Homo sapiens: one gene and its partner. The protein of the gene in region 2 purifies or fractionates together with the protein of the main gene of each other region. This does not show direct contact. Each region holds a gene or a part of one and is shown on either strand. Other genes may lie near its edges.

What was found.
Region 1: the proteins of ISOC1 (region 2) and ARHGAP8 purify together in Homo sapiens (affinity purification with mass spectrometry; 2 studies listed by BioGRID and IntAct, with this or other methods). This does not show direct contact.

Annotation. Positions count from the first base shown.
Region 1 is NC_000022.11:44,859,913-44,863,930, forward strand, and holds the end of ARHGAP8 (rho GTPase-activating protein 8), read left to right. Parts: intron 1-2,362; coding exon 2,363-2,683; 3' UTR 2,684-2,872; downstream 2,873-4,018. Other genes in the region: PRR5-ARHGAP8 fusion protein, read left to right, coding at 2,363-2,683.
Region 2 is NC_000005.10:129,097,703-129,106,010, reverse strand, and holds part of ISOC1 (isochorismatase domain-containing protein 1), read right to left. Parts: exon of another isoform or gene 8,245-8,308; intron 1,056-8,244; coding exon 936-1,055; intron 827-935; coding exon 623-826; intron 1-622.

The DNA of each region.
Region 1 (4,018 bases), on a different chromosome or scaffold from region 2:
TCCTTGCCCTGGGTCTGGGGTCATGCCCTGCTTGGGCCTCGGAATACCACTCCCTGCCCCCCAAGGACCTCATCCAAGGCCTGGTCAGGCACCCATGCTGCTGCGGACCTCCTGCCTGTCAGACAGGGCGTACCTGCCCCTGCCTGCTCCTGTACCTGCTGTCCCTCAGCCATTGCCAGTGACTTTTGTTATTGGGGTCCTCTGCCCCCATGTCATTTCCTGCTTGGGCTGAGTCTCTAGGAGGTGGGAGCTGTGTCCACCACTGGTACAGAGCCCAGTGGACTGAGCTGACCATTCCTGGGGAAGGGATACACCCAGAACCACGTACATTAAGTTCCTGTGACTGCATCGTGGGTGCCTTAAAACAGATTTACTGTGTCACTCTTCTAGAGGCTAGCAGTCCAAAAGCAAGGTGTGGCGGGCTGTGCTCCTTCCAGAGGCTCTAGGGAAGGTTCCCCTTCCTGGCCTCTCCCAGCTCCTGGTCACTCCAGCTATGCCTCCAGCTCCCCCCTGGCCTTTGTCTGTGTGTGTGTCTAATCTCCCTCCACCTTTCCCTCCTAAGTGTGGACCCCCTGCCATATGTCACTGGGTTTAGGACCCACCCAGATGACGCGGGATGATCTCATCTTGAGATCCTCAACGACAGCTGCAACGGCCCTCGTTCCAAATAAGGTCACAGTCAGATTCTCTGTGGTCTATCTTAGAGGGGCCACCATTCAATCTACTACACACCAGGCTAAGCAAATGACCAGAGAGAGAGAAACCCTTCAGTGCTCTGGGCCTGGGCTTAGTGTGCTCTCCCCCTGGGGCAGGGATCCATTTGGAGCAAAAACCTGTGCAGCCAACAGGGGAAGGTTCAACACATCCACGTGGGTCCACCCCCAACCCCCAGACCCACGGCCTTGAATGTTTAACCCCCTCCATCTCTCCAGGCCTTCGCCCCAGGCTGTGCAGGGTGAGGAGAGCCTGAGCAGAGTAGGCGTCACATCCCAGAGTCTGTTGGAGAATGTCACTTCTTGGTTTTACAACAATTTTTTTTCTCCCTGTTGCTTGACATAATTTCTCAGAGGCCCAAAACTAAACTCTCCTAATTCTCTCAAAAAAATTTTTTGAGACAGTCTTGCTCTGTTGCCCTAGCTGGTGTGCACTGGTGCAATCTCAGCTCACTGCAACCCCAGCCTCCCACGTAGCTGGGATTACAGGTGAGAACCACCATGCCCGGCTAATTTTTGTTTTTTTAGTAGAGATGGGGTTTCGTCACATTGGCCAGGCTGATCTTGAACTCCTGACCTCAGGTGATCCACCTGCCTCGGCCTCTTAAGAGTGCTGGGATTACAGGTGTGAGCCACTGCACCCAGCCTACTTCTTTTTCATTAGGAGAGACTGATTTCTCTCTCTAGCCGCCACCTCCATGGGCACCGATGTGAATGCACCTGGTGGGGTGTGGTGTTGCGTGTTATCACCCCAGTGGCACCTGGGGGCCTCGGCTTGAGGAGGGGTGGCCTGCAGTGGGCCTGGCTGGTGCACACCTGCAACGGGCTTGGGGGACCGGCAGCCAGGGGGAGCCTGAAAGGCATCCAGCCATCTCACCTGAGCATCCTCAACAGATCTGTGAGGGTGGTGCCTGGCCCTGCCTCCCTCCAGTTCTCTGCTCTGCCCTGGTACTCACCGCCTCATGACCCCTGTTTCTGACTGAGGTTCCCCCCAGCTTGAATCTTGTAGGGAGGCAAGGAGCAGAGAACAGGCCCTGCCCTCACGTTGGTCCACATGGCCCCCTGCCACTGGCTGGCCACATGACCTTGGGCAAGTCTCCTGTACCTTCCAGGCCCCAGATTCCTCATCTGTAAGATGGGGAGTAATGACTCCCCCGTGCTGGGGTTGCACGTGTTGGCGGAGATGGACAAGGAGCCCCTTCTAGCAGGCAAGCTCTTTCCACTCTCCCTGCCCCTCGTAGTGGCCCCTAGATGTGCTGGCTGGTCCCCATCATGCCCAGTTCGCCACTCACAGAGCCGAGGCCAGAGAGGTCACCAAGTTCGTACCGTCTGTGCTACAGCCCATCCCCAAGATTGCATCTCCCCAGAAGGTGCAGTGGAAGAGGAGATAGTGGGGGGTTGAGGCTGTCACAGAAGGTCAGAGCCAGAGGGTCCTCCAGGACATGGAGGCCAAGCCTTCCTTTTAGAGATAGGGTAACTAAGGCCCTGAGTGGGCAGGTGGCTGCACAGGGTCCCCATTACTGGCTGCCGGCTCCCAGTCCAGTGCTCCTCTCACTACACCTACGCCTCTCCCTAAGTTCGGGAGGGAGTTCCAGGTGCCCGTGCCCCTTGGTGTTCACTCCCCTTTACTTGTGTGTGGTTTCCTCCAGGTGTCCCGGGAGAGCATCTTCAACAAAATGAACAGCTCTAACCTGGCCTGTGTCTTCGGGCTGAATTTGATCTGGCCATCCCAGGGGGTCTCCTCCCTGAGTGCCCTTGTGCCCCTGAACATGTTCACTGAACTGCTGATCGAGTACTATGAAAAGATCTTCAGCACCCCGGAGGCACCTGGGGAGCACGGCCTGGCACCATGGGAACAGGGGAGCAGGGCAGCCCCTTTGCAGGAGGCTGTGCCACGGACACAAGCCACGGGCCTCACCAAGCCTACCCTACCTCCGAGTCCCCTGATGGCAGCCAGAAGACGTCTCTAGTGTTGCGAACACTCTGTATATTTCGAGCTACCTCCCACACCTGTCTGTGCACTTGTATGTTTTGTAAACTTGGCATCTGTAAAAATAACCAGCCATTAGATGAATTCAGAACCTTCTAATGAAAACTCCATGCCTCTGGTCCTTGGACTCTTGTCCATGGTTCCTGAGCTGTGGACCGGGATAGAATAATGCATTTGTTAGGATGGATGTTTTGAATCCCAACCCAATGTGGTTTAACTGAAAACAGGAATGGAGTGGCTAACGGCTGCCAGGTCCTGCTGCTGCCACACTGCTGTGTAACACACCACCTAAGCCCAGTCACTGAAAGTTACTGCCCAGGAGTCAGTGGGTCAGCTGGGTGGTTCTATTGGTCTTTTGAGGGGGTCACTTACATGTCCTGGCTGAGCTGGCTGGCAGCTGGGGTGACTCTGTTCTCCCCCAGGTGTCCCAAGTCCTTCCAATGGCCAAACGGGGCACATTCTTACAACATAGGTCCAGGTGCACACACAAGCGCTATTGCAAGCAGTTTTCATGCTTTGACTGGCGTCCTGTATGCTCACATCTCATTGGCCAAAGCAAGCCTGGTGGCCAAGGCCAGGGTCACAGAGGGAGGGCCCTGCAAAGGGGGTGGATATGGGGAGGGTGAAGAATTGGGCATAAAGCAGCCAAGCTGCCCGAGGGCTCTGGGGTGCGACAGGACTCTGCAGTCTCAGGCAGGCTGACTCTTGGGCTGGCAAAACGGGCCCTGTATTTCCATCAGATATGGTAGAGAAGGATACAACTTCTTAGTGCCACAGTCCCAGCAAAAAAGCCCCAGGTTCACCCTGATTGGACAAGCCTAGGTCACATGCTCACCTTAGACCCATTGCTGCAGCCAGGGAAGGCTCTGATTGGCTTAGGCCTGAGTCTTGTGCCCCACCCAGACCAGGCAGTGGGGGAGGAGTGGCAGGCCGCTGCAGGGGATTACCCACGAGTCCCACGCTGCCGTCTCCCCAGCTCTTGATGCAGGGAGAAGCGGGGGAGGTTCTGGGGAGCAAAGGACAAAAGTCCCCTCTACAGATCCCCCATGGTGGCCCCTCCGTGCCTGCTTGGGGTGTTGACCGAGTTGTGCCGGGACCCCCGGTACGCGTTAGGATGCTTGGGGGAATCACTGGCAGCCCCAGGCCAAACCCACACCCAGGGCTCTCCTCTGAAACTTAGAGGGTGCGGTCTCCTCGCTGGCCTCCCTCTTCACTTGTGTGTCTTCCCATTATTCCCCTGCCCCTCATCTGCCGCTGTGTGTGTTCTACCCTGCTGGTGCTCGCTGTCCTTAAGGGAGGGGCTCGTGTGGCTGCT
Region 2 (8,308 bases):
AAAAGTTACCTTCAAATTGTCATAATCACATTAAATTAATATTTTGATTTCATTGTTTTAGTGGTTTTTTCTTAATTTTTAAAATTTTAGTTTAATAGTTGTTTAAAAGCTAGGAATAAATCAATTGAAATCAGCAATAGGAATCCATTAGTATTTTTCCCCTGTAAAAAGATACATACATGATTTGAAGGACAATGAACTACATGACCTCCAAGGTTCTTCTAGCACAAAAATATGACCTAACTGAAATCCTACAACACATACATTAAAATAATGCCTTTGGTGAAAATGTATTCCAAAAGTAGTAGTTAAAAATACAGGACCAAGAATCAATCAGCTTACATACATTCAAGTCAGTTACACAACATCTCGGTATTTTAGTATCCTCTTTAATATGGGGAGACTACTGAGTATTTAGCTCTTACTTGGCTTAAGGGACTTAATAAATAAACAGCTATAAAATGTTCAGATCAGTGCCATGCAAATAGTGAACATAATACATGGTGGCTACCTTTCCTCATTATTACTGCCTACCTGGCATACCATATATGAAATTACATTCCACAAATATTGAGTTTTCTATAAATAATATTGTGCCTAAATGATAGTAACAGGTACTTACTTCTACTCCAAATAATACAACACTCCTGACTCCGGGAATCTCTGCTAATGCCGCTTCTACTTCTGGTAATACCATTGAAAACTTGGTCTTTGGAAGTACCAGTTTTACACCTGTTAAATCAATTTCTTGAACCGTGCTCCCAAGACCTTTAGGGTATTGTTCTGTTACAATAACAGGAATTCCTAAAATCCGGGCCCCTTGCAACTGAAAAAAAATAACCAAACACAAAAACAATTAGCTATATACATATATGTGTATATATGAGTGTATATGATGATTCAGCAAATATGACCAAATAAGTAAACAAGCATACCAATCTCTGTCCCACGCTAATAATATCCCCAAAATACTTGATGGCTGGTCTGAACCTTTCCTGCATATCACAGCAGAAAAACACAGTGCTTGAAGGTGTAAGATTTCCCAGGGTAGTGAGCTGAGGAAAAAAGAAAAAGAATGATTTAGCACTTGTTGTACAATGACATTTATTTTCAGTGGAGGTCAATAAAGGAAGAAAAATGGTCCTATTGTTTGAGCCAGTAAGTCAATTTCTACCGCTATTATCCAAAAAAAGTATCTGAATTACAGGAAAAAAAAAAACTCAAAAAGATGTTCTCTGAATTGCTTTTAATAGCGGAAATTAGAAATGAACCAGCCAACAATACAGATATGATATAACACATTTTAACACATTCACATGACAAAACATTTTTTAGCCAATTAAAAAACATATGTATATGTCTTCAAAGAATTCATACCATCCATGGAAAAATACTCATAATGTTAATTTTTAAAAAGTGCAGTTCAATAGTATTTCAATAATGTAAAAATATGAATAAAAGTAGTAGTACATTACAATATTAACAAGTGGTTATATAATTGGGGTGTTGGTAATTTCTTTTTTTATACCATTCCTATATTTTCCAAGTGTTATTTAAACACATTTCCTGAATGTTATTTAAAGAAATTTCTTTATAATCAGAAAAAGTGTTACAATAGAAAAAAAATCTGATGTTGCTGCTTGTAAGTATAAAAAGTAAAACTTAAAATATCTGTAGCAGGAACATAAAAACTAAAAACAAAAAACAGACAGAAGCAAATCCAGAATTACTGCTATCATCAAGACAGAAATATGAAAATGCTATTCTCAAGAATAATTTTTAGAGTTCAAACAAAATGCAACGAAATGATACCAAGCACACCACTGCTGTTAAATGAACTGTCGTTTACTTCACAAGGAAGAGACCTATATTTGACATCTCCATTCTTAAACTATAGTTATCACGATAAGGAAAGTCAATGAATTAAGATGAAAAGTGGATATTAGATTACCAAACCTCATATTAGCTGCTGTAGTTGGTCTATAACAATTTGGGCCCAATATGGATCCACCAAAAAGCAAAAATCACCATTAAATATGAGAATTTACTCTCACTGGATTCTTAAAAGTCTGAGGTGCTTTTCTTTCTTTTGCAAATTGCAGGAAGTACTGTAAAGGATGTGTTCTGGTCCTGAATGAACCATTATCAATACCCTTACTAGCCGCTCCCTTAAATCATCCCTCTAATTATCCTACTTTGTTTCCCCTAAAACCACCTACAGATAACTATTATTAATAATATTCTAAAGGAGTCTGTGTCTGGATTACATGGTGTGGCTTCACCACCAACACAGCCTTAGACTCTCCTTAGTATCTCTGCAGGGGTTGACTCTCTGGAAACAATTACTACATGAATTAAATTAACCATTAAGAAATCTTTAATCCTTAATGATATAACTGTTCTAATTGGTTTGCACTTTGTTTTATCTATGTCCTGGTCTGAAGTACCCTGGCACTTTAATCTCCCTCTGGTACTGACTCTATAGATGTGTATTAACTAGCTATGCACAATCCAATACCAAATTCATGTTAGAATGTGAGAGCCATCTGTAATTCTTACTCTATGTATAGGGTTTTCCTACTTTTCCAATAAAGCATGATTAAAATAAATTCTCAAGCATATTATATGTTCTAGCTTTGGCTGTTTCTTTGCTTAATTTTAAATGCAAGTATTATGCCTCTGCTTTGGTCATTTTCAAAAGCAGTGACTAGGATCTTATATACAAATATAAATGCATTGCTGGGAAGGCTAATTTTTGTGCATTTAGGATACTATTTTAAAAACCAATCACTAAATTCTCTGTAAACATCAAATATTGACTCAAAAGGCTCAATATCTACATTTTTATAAATTTGAATCATGGACTCGTAGGCATCCACAATGTGTTTAGGGCACACTACATAAAGCAGTTTGCCTGCAGCAGGCCTACTGAAATAACCATAATGCAAGTAAGCCAGTCTCACCGTTTCACAACAGGTGAGAACCAGCAAAAACAAAAAAAAATTTGAAAAATAAAATTCCTGGGCAGTTGCGTAAATGTGGTGGAGGCCATTCACTAACATGCTTAGAGCTTACACTTGCTTAGAATTCCAGCTCTCAGATCCTATTTTATACTGTATTGACTACCTCTGTATACATTCCTAACAAGTTTCATTGTCTGGATTCTAAATTAACAGAAGGCTATAAACAGCAAATCAGAAAGGAAACTGCTGGAGGCAGGCAAACTGATAGCAGCAAGAAATGATGGCTGACAGAGAAAAGATTCAAAATACAATAAAAACAGATCAAAACTCAAATAATGCTACAGTCTAGACCTCCAGTGGAAGAGTAAAAAGCTGTTCTAACTTATAAATTAGGAAAACATCATTCCAGCACACTCATTAAGAAAACTGTTAAATTATATATTTCAGAAGGACTACATTATAAAATGGTCAAGATATTTTTAAGTTGAGGTGTTTAAAAGAATAAATCCTTACCTACCCAGGAATCCTAATATCCAGAGTTGTGGTCTCCAGTTCTTGCTAGCTGGTGTTTCCTGCCCTTCATTTTAGCTATGGGTTCTGGACAGGGGACTGCATCAGATGTGTCATATTAGACACACATTGAGGAGGTCAAAAATACAGCCCTAAAATCCTCACTGCCCTGGGAAATCTCTCTAGTATAGGAACTTACCATCCACAAACTCAGTAAACAAAGAAACCATAGAGAATACAGTGGCAAGGCATGTTTTTAAAGCAGAGTACAGGTTACAATTTACTGAATAAAAAATACCCTACCTTTCATAGACATTCTCCACATGCTGTTGAATATGATGTGGAGAGTATCTATGTAAGGTGTTTAACTCCCAACATCCTCTTGAATGTGGCTGCACTTAGTACTCTGCTTCTTATGAGGAGAGTATAGAGGGGGAAGAGTAACTTTACAATGGAGAGACCTGACGACTGTGTCTCAGCCAGGTGATCAAGATTAATGTCATTAATGACATCATGTTAATAACATGTACCTTTGATATGATGTAATGAGAATGACCCTTGTGACCTTCCTCTTGAAATTTCACAACCCCGATCCAACAATGAGAAAAACATCAAATGAATCAAAATTGAGGGACATTCTACCAAAATATCTGACCAGTGCTCCTCAAAACTGTCAAGGTCATTAAAAACAAAGTTGAGAAACTGCTATAGACTAGAGGAGCCAAAGGAGACAAGACAACAAAATGTAATTGGTATCCTAGTTTGGATTTTGGAACAGAAAAAGGACATTAGGGAAAAGCTAGTGAAATATGAATAAAGTGTGGTTTAGTTAATAGTAACGTACCAATGTTGGTTCTTTGGTTGTGACAAATGTACTGCAGGAATATCAAATGTTAATGTTAGGGAATCCAGCTGGGCATGGTGGCTCATGCTGGTAATCCCAGCACTTCGGAGGCCAAGGTGGGAGGATCACTTAAGCCCAGGATTGCAAGAGCAGCCTAGGCAACACAGTGAGACCTTGTCTCTACAAAACATATTTTTTTGAGACAGAGTCTCACTCTGTCGCCCAGGCTGGAGTGCAGTGGCGTGATCTCGACTCATTGCAACCTCCACCTTCTGGTTCAAGCGATTCTTGTGCCTCAGCCTCCCAAGTAGCCGGGATTACAGGCGTGCACCACTGCACCCGGCTAATTTTGGTACTGCTAATAGAGATGGGGTTTCACCATGTTGCCCAGGCTGGTCTTGAATTCCTGGGCTCAAGGGATCTGCCTGCCTTGGCCTCCCAAAGTGCTGGGATTACAGGTGTGAACCACTACACCCAACCCAACCATATATATATATATATTTTTTTTTTTTTTTTTTTTTTTTTTTTTTTTGATTAGCTGAGCTTGGTGGCCCAGCTCCTCAGGAGGCTGAGGTGGGAAGATCCTCTGAGAACGGGAGGTCGAGGCTACAGTCCAGCCTGGGCAACAGAGCAAGACCCTGTCTCACAAACAAACAAACAAACAAACAAACAAAAACAATAGGGAATCTGGGTACAGGAATATAGGAACTCTCTGTACTATCTTTACAACTTTATTGTAAATCTAAAGCTATTCTAAAATAAAAAGTTAGTTTTTTTTTTTTAATGGCCTCCCTATGCTATGATATTTGGGGGAATAACGTCTATACCTTACAAACAGAAAGGAACTTTTGTGGCTACCAAAAACATACTGAAAAACTTTAATCATGTCCAACCAATCCTCCCAAATCCTCACCCCAAATCCACATGAATTCCAACAGGCTGTTAAAATCATACAACTCTCTAAATTTCGGAAATTTCTTACTTTGACTCATGAAGTTCTCTTAAACCAAAATCTTTAAGGTAATTAAAAAATATCGCCAGTAGCCAAACATTTACATGTTGCAACTGTAAGACAGCCAGTCCTGCCTCAGCAAATTAAAAGTGGACTGGACCAAATGTCACCAGGAGTAAAAGCATAGCAATTACAGATCTATGCATATTTAAGGAATATAAACAAATCACATATAAATATATGTATCCACACACCTTCGTATATCTATATGCCTACACATAGTCCTACACACACATTTGCACATGATACATATACAAATATATATATATTTAAATATAAAAAGTTGATCATAGCCAATGGCTTCCTCAAGCAAGAGTTTAAGAGATCAGATTCAAGTATAAATATTTTGTCTACTTTCTTAAGAATTGTCATAGCTGGGATTTGACCTTAGATTTCATACTCAAAAGACTTTTCACATCACCCAGCCCATAGCAAATTACTATAGGGATTTGGAATAATTAAAATTTGAAACTGTAAATGCGATGTTTAAAAAATTTGGTAGTCAATTAGAGTCACAAAATAGGCATGATCTGTTTGGGAGAAAGTCTGGAAGGGGACCTGGGGCATCGTTATTTCACTCCCAAGTGTTTCTGAGGAAATCCGATGACCACAGCTATAGTAAGGCCTGGCTCCAATGTCAACTCACTTACAACAGAGGTCTGTGATGTGACTCCCCCAGGTTACAAAGATCCCCTTTATAGCACAAGCCTCAGTAGGCATTAGAATCTGAGTGCAAATCTCAATTTCACTAATTTCGATTACATGAACTTAGGTAAATATCTCCATATGCAATTTCCTTATCTGTAACACAGCAAGAAAAATAGTATCTACATCATAGGGGTATTTCAAGGATTAAATGGGCTTCATATAATCAATCAATAAATGTATTAGGCTATTCTGATGTCCCTCATATATTAAACACTACACTCTAAAACTTAGCATATGTTAAAAAACTTACCCTCTAATGAGGATAAATATTTACAATTAAGATCCCTTTAGAAACCTATAAATATATTTATAGGAATGCTAACATTGCATAACTTGTTATGTTAACATAATATGCAGAATAAGGAAAGTGAATCATAAAGTGATTTATAAAGTAGATTTCCAGATGTTACCAAGACCTTACCAAATCACTAAGACAAGATTGTTCCTGGAAAAACAGATCAGGGACTTTTTAATTTAGGCTGTGAAATAATACTTATTGGCTCTTATTTTTACAACATATTCACCTATTGTGAACATTGATGTCACTGGCATAAGGTTACAACCCTAGCTTATCAGTTAAGGTATGAGTTTTCTAAATCCCCAAGGGACGCCAGCTGTCTCCACCCACCCCAGGGGTGAGGACTGAAGGATTTCTTAAGACTGTGCCTCAGACTGGGGTGAAGGTGAAGCTAGACAAGCCCAGGACCACAATGACATTTGAATCTACATTGGGATTCCCTTGGTTAGCTAAATGCAAGAAAAAAAATTCAAAATTCAGATCATAGCTCCTACTCTCAAACACAGTTTATTTATAGGTAGCTCTAATGTATTCAGAAGGAGCAAAAAAGGATACAATGCTTTAGGTATTATTCTGGAATGTTAATTTTTTTTTAAGTGACACACATCAAACCAATGGGGTAGAGACAATACAACCACCTCAGGATCCAGCTGTCTCCTCTCTGAGCATTAGCTCATCTACCCCCTCTTCCTGCCACGCTCCTGAGGCAAAGGTTTTGTAATCAAAAACCACTACCTTCAAACTATCAAGCCAAAGGCGAACAAGGTTCCTTTCCTCCTGCCTTCCCTCCCTTCCCACCATGAACCTGTCAGTCTCTTCTAGCTATAAAATGTTCATGCCCCTGTTTAAAATAATAATAATAGTAATAAACTTCCAAGAAAATGAAAGCTGGAGCAAAATGCCCTGCCAGTTAACCATCTTGGGAAAAGGTCAAAATAACCTTCCCTGGAACGCCCTTATCTTCTGGCCACAGAAAGCTGCCAAAGCCTTCCCTGCTATGTACAGAAGTAAAATCCCCTCACTGGCATCCTTCTTACACTGTCCATTTCCTCCTCTCTTCTCTGCAGGCTCTGTCTTTCCTGGCCACAGGCTGGAAAATGCACTGGTGGTAGCATGATACAACATTTATGTAAATTTCCATAGTTAAATGTTTCCTTTACCTAAAACTTACAAAATACCTTTTGAAAAATTAAAACTTTTAAGTCATAAAAATGACGTAAATCCCCACTACATAATCCTCTCATTTATATTCTTTCCCGTGTCTCAAAATTCATCAGATCTCAAGCATTTGGCAAAGCTGCAGACATACAAACCAAGCATGAAACATGAGCTATGCCTTCATCTACCTGAGCTGTCGGCAGACATTGTTACTTTGACAGAATATTTAAGAAAAGAAGTCACCAAAAACTTACCACAGCCTAATACTGGCAATGGGGGGTCTTAAAGATCAGTTCTCATAGAACCACTAACAAGCACGGGTGCAGTGTGGCAAAGGCAGCCACTGTGTTTCACAAGGTCATCAGCCACAGCTGTCAGAATAAGCACGAAGGCAACTCATACCACGGCGCAAATGAAGAATACATTCTAGACTAACAGTACGTGAGCCAGGGCCACAGAGGCTCCAGGGCCCAAGTGTGGAGAAATAATAAATCACTATTTACGCAATGAACTACATGTGGCCAAACTTGTGCTCTTTGTCCCTGCCTTCAAGAAGGGGCCAACCATCCCCAGTAACATGGACTCACCGATAGGCCACCTTGAGTCTTCCTAAGTGACAAGCATTTATTCCAAAGAACAAGGAGCAGCACCAAGACAAATGAACAAACAAGAGCTCAAGTTTGTGACTTGTTTTCCAGACTGCTCAATTCTCATTAAACATGCAAGCAGTAGTGCTGTGTTCGGCTGTAAGTGACGCTCTGCATATGCCTGGCTAGCTCCTCCACACGCATTTGTGGAGGAGCTAGCCAGGCATA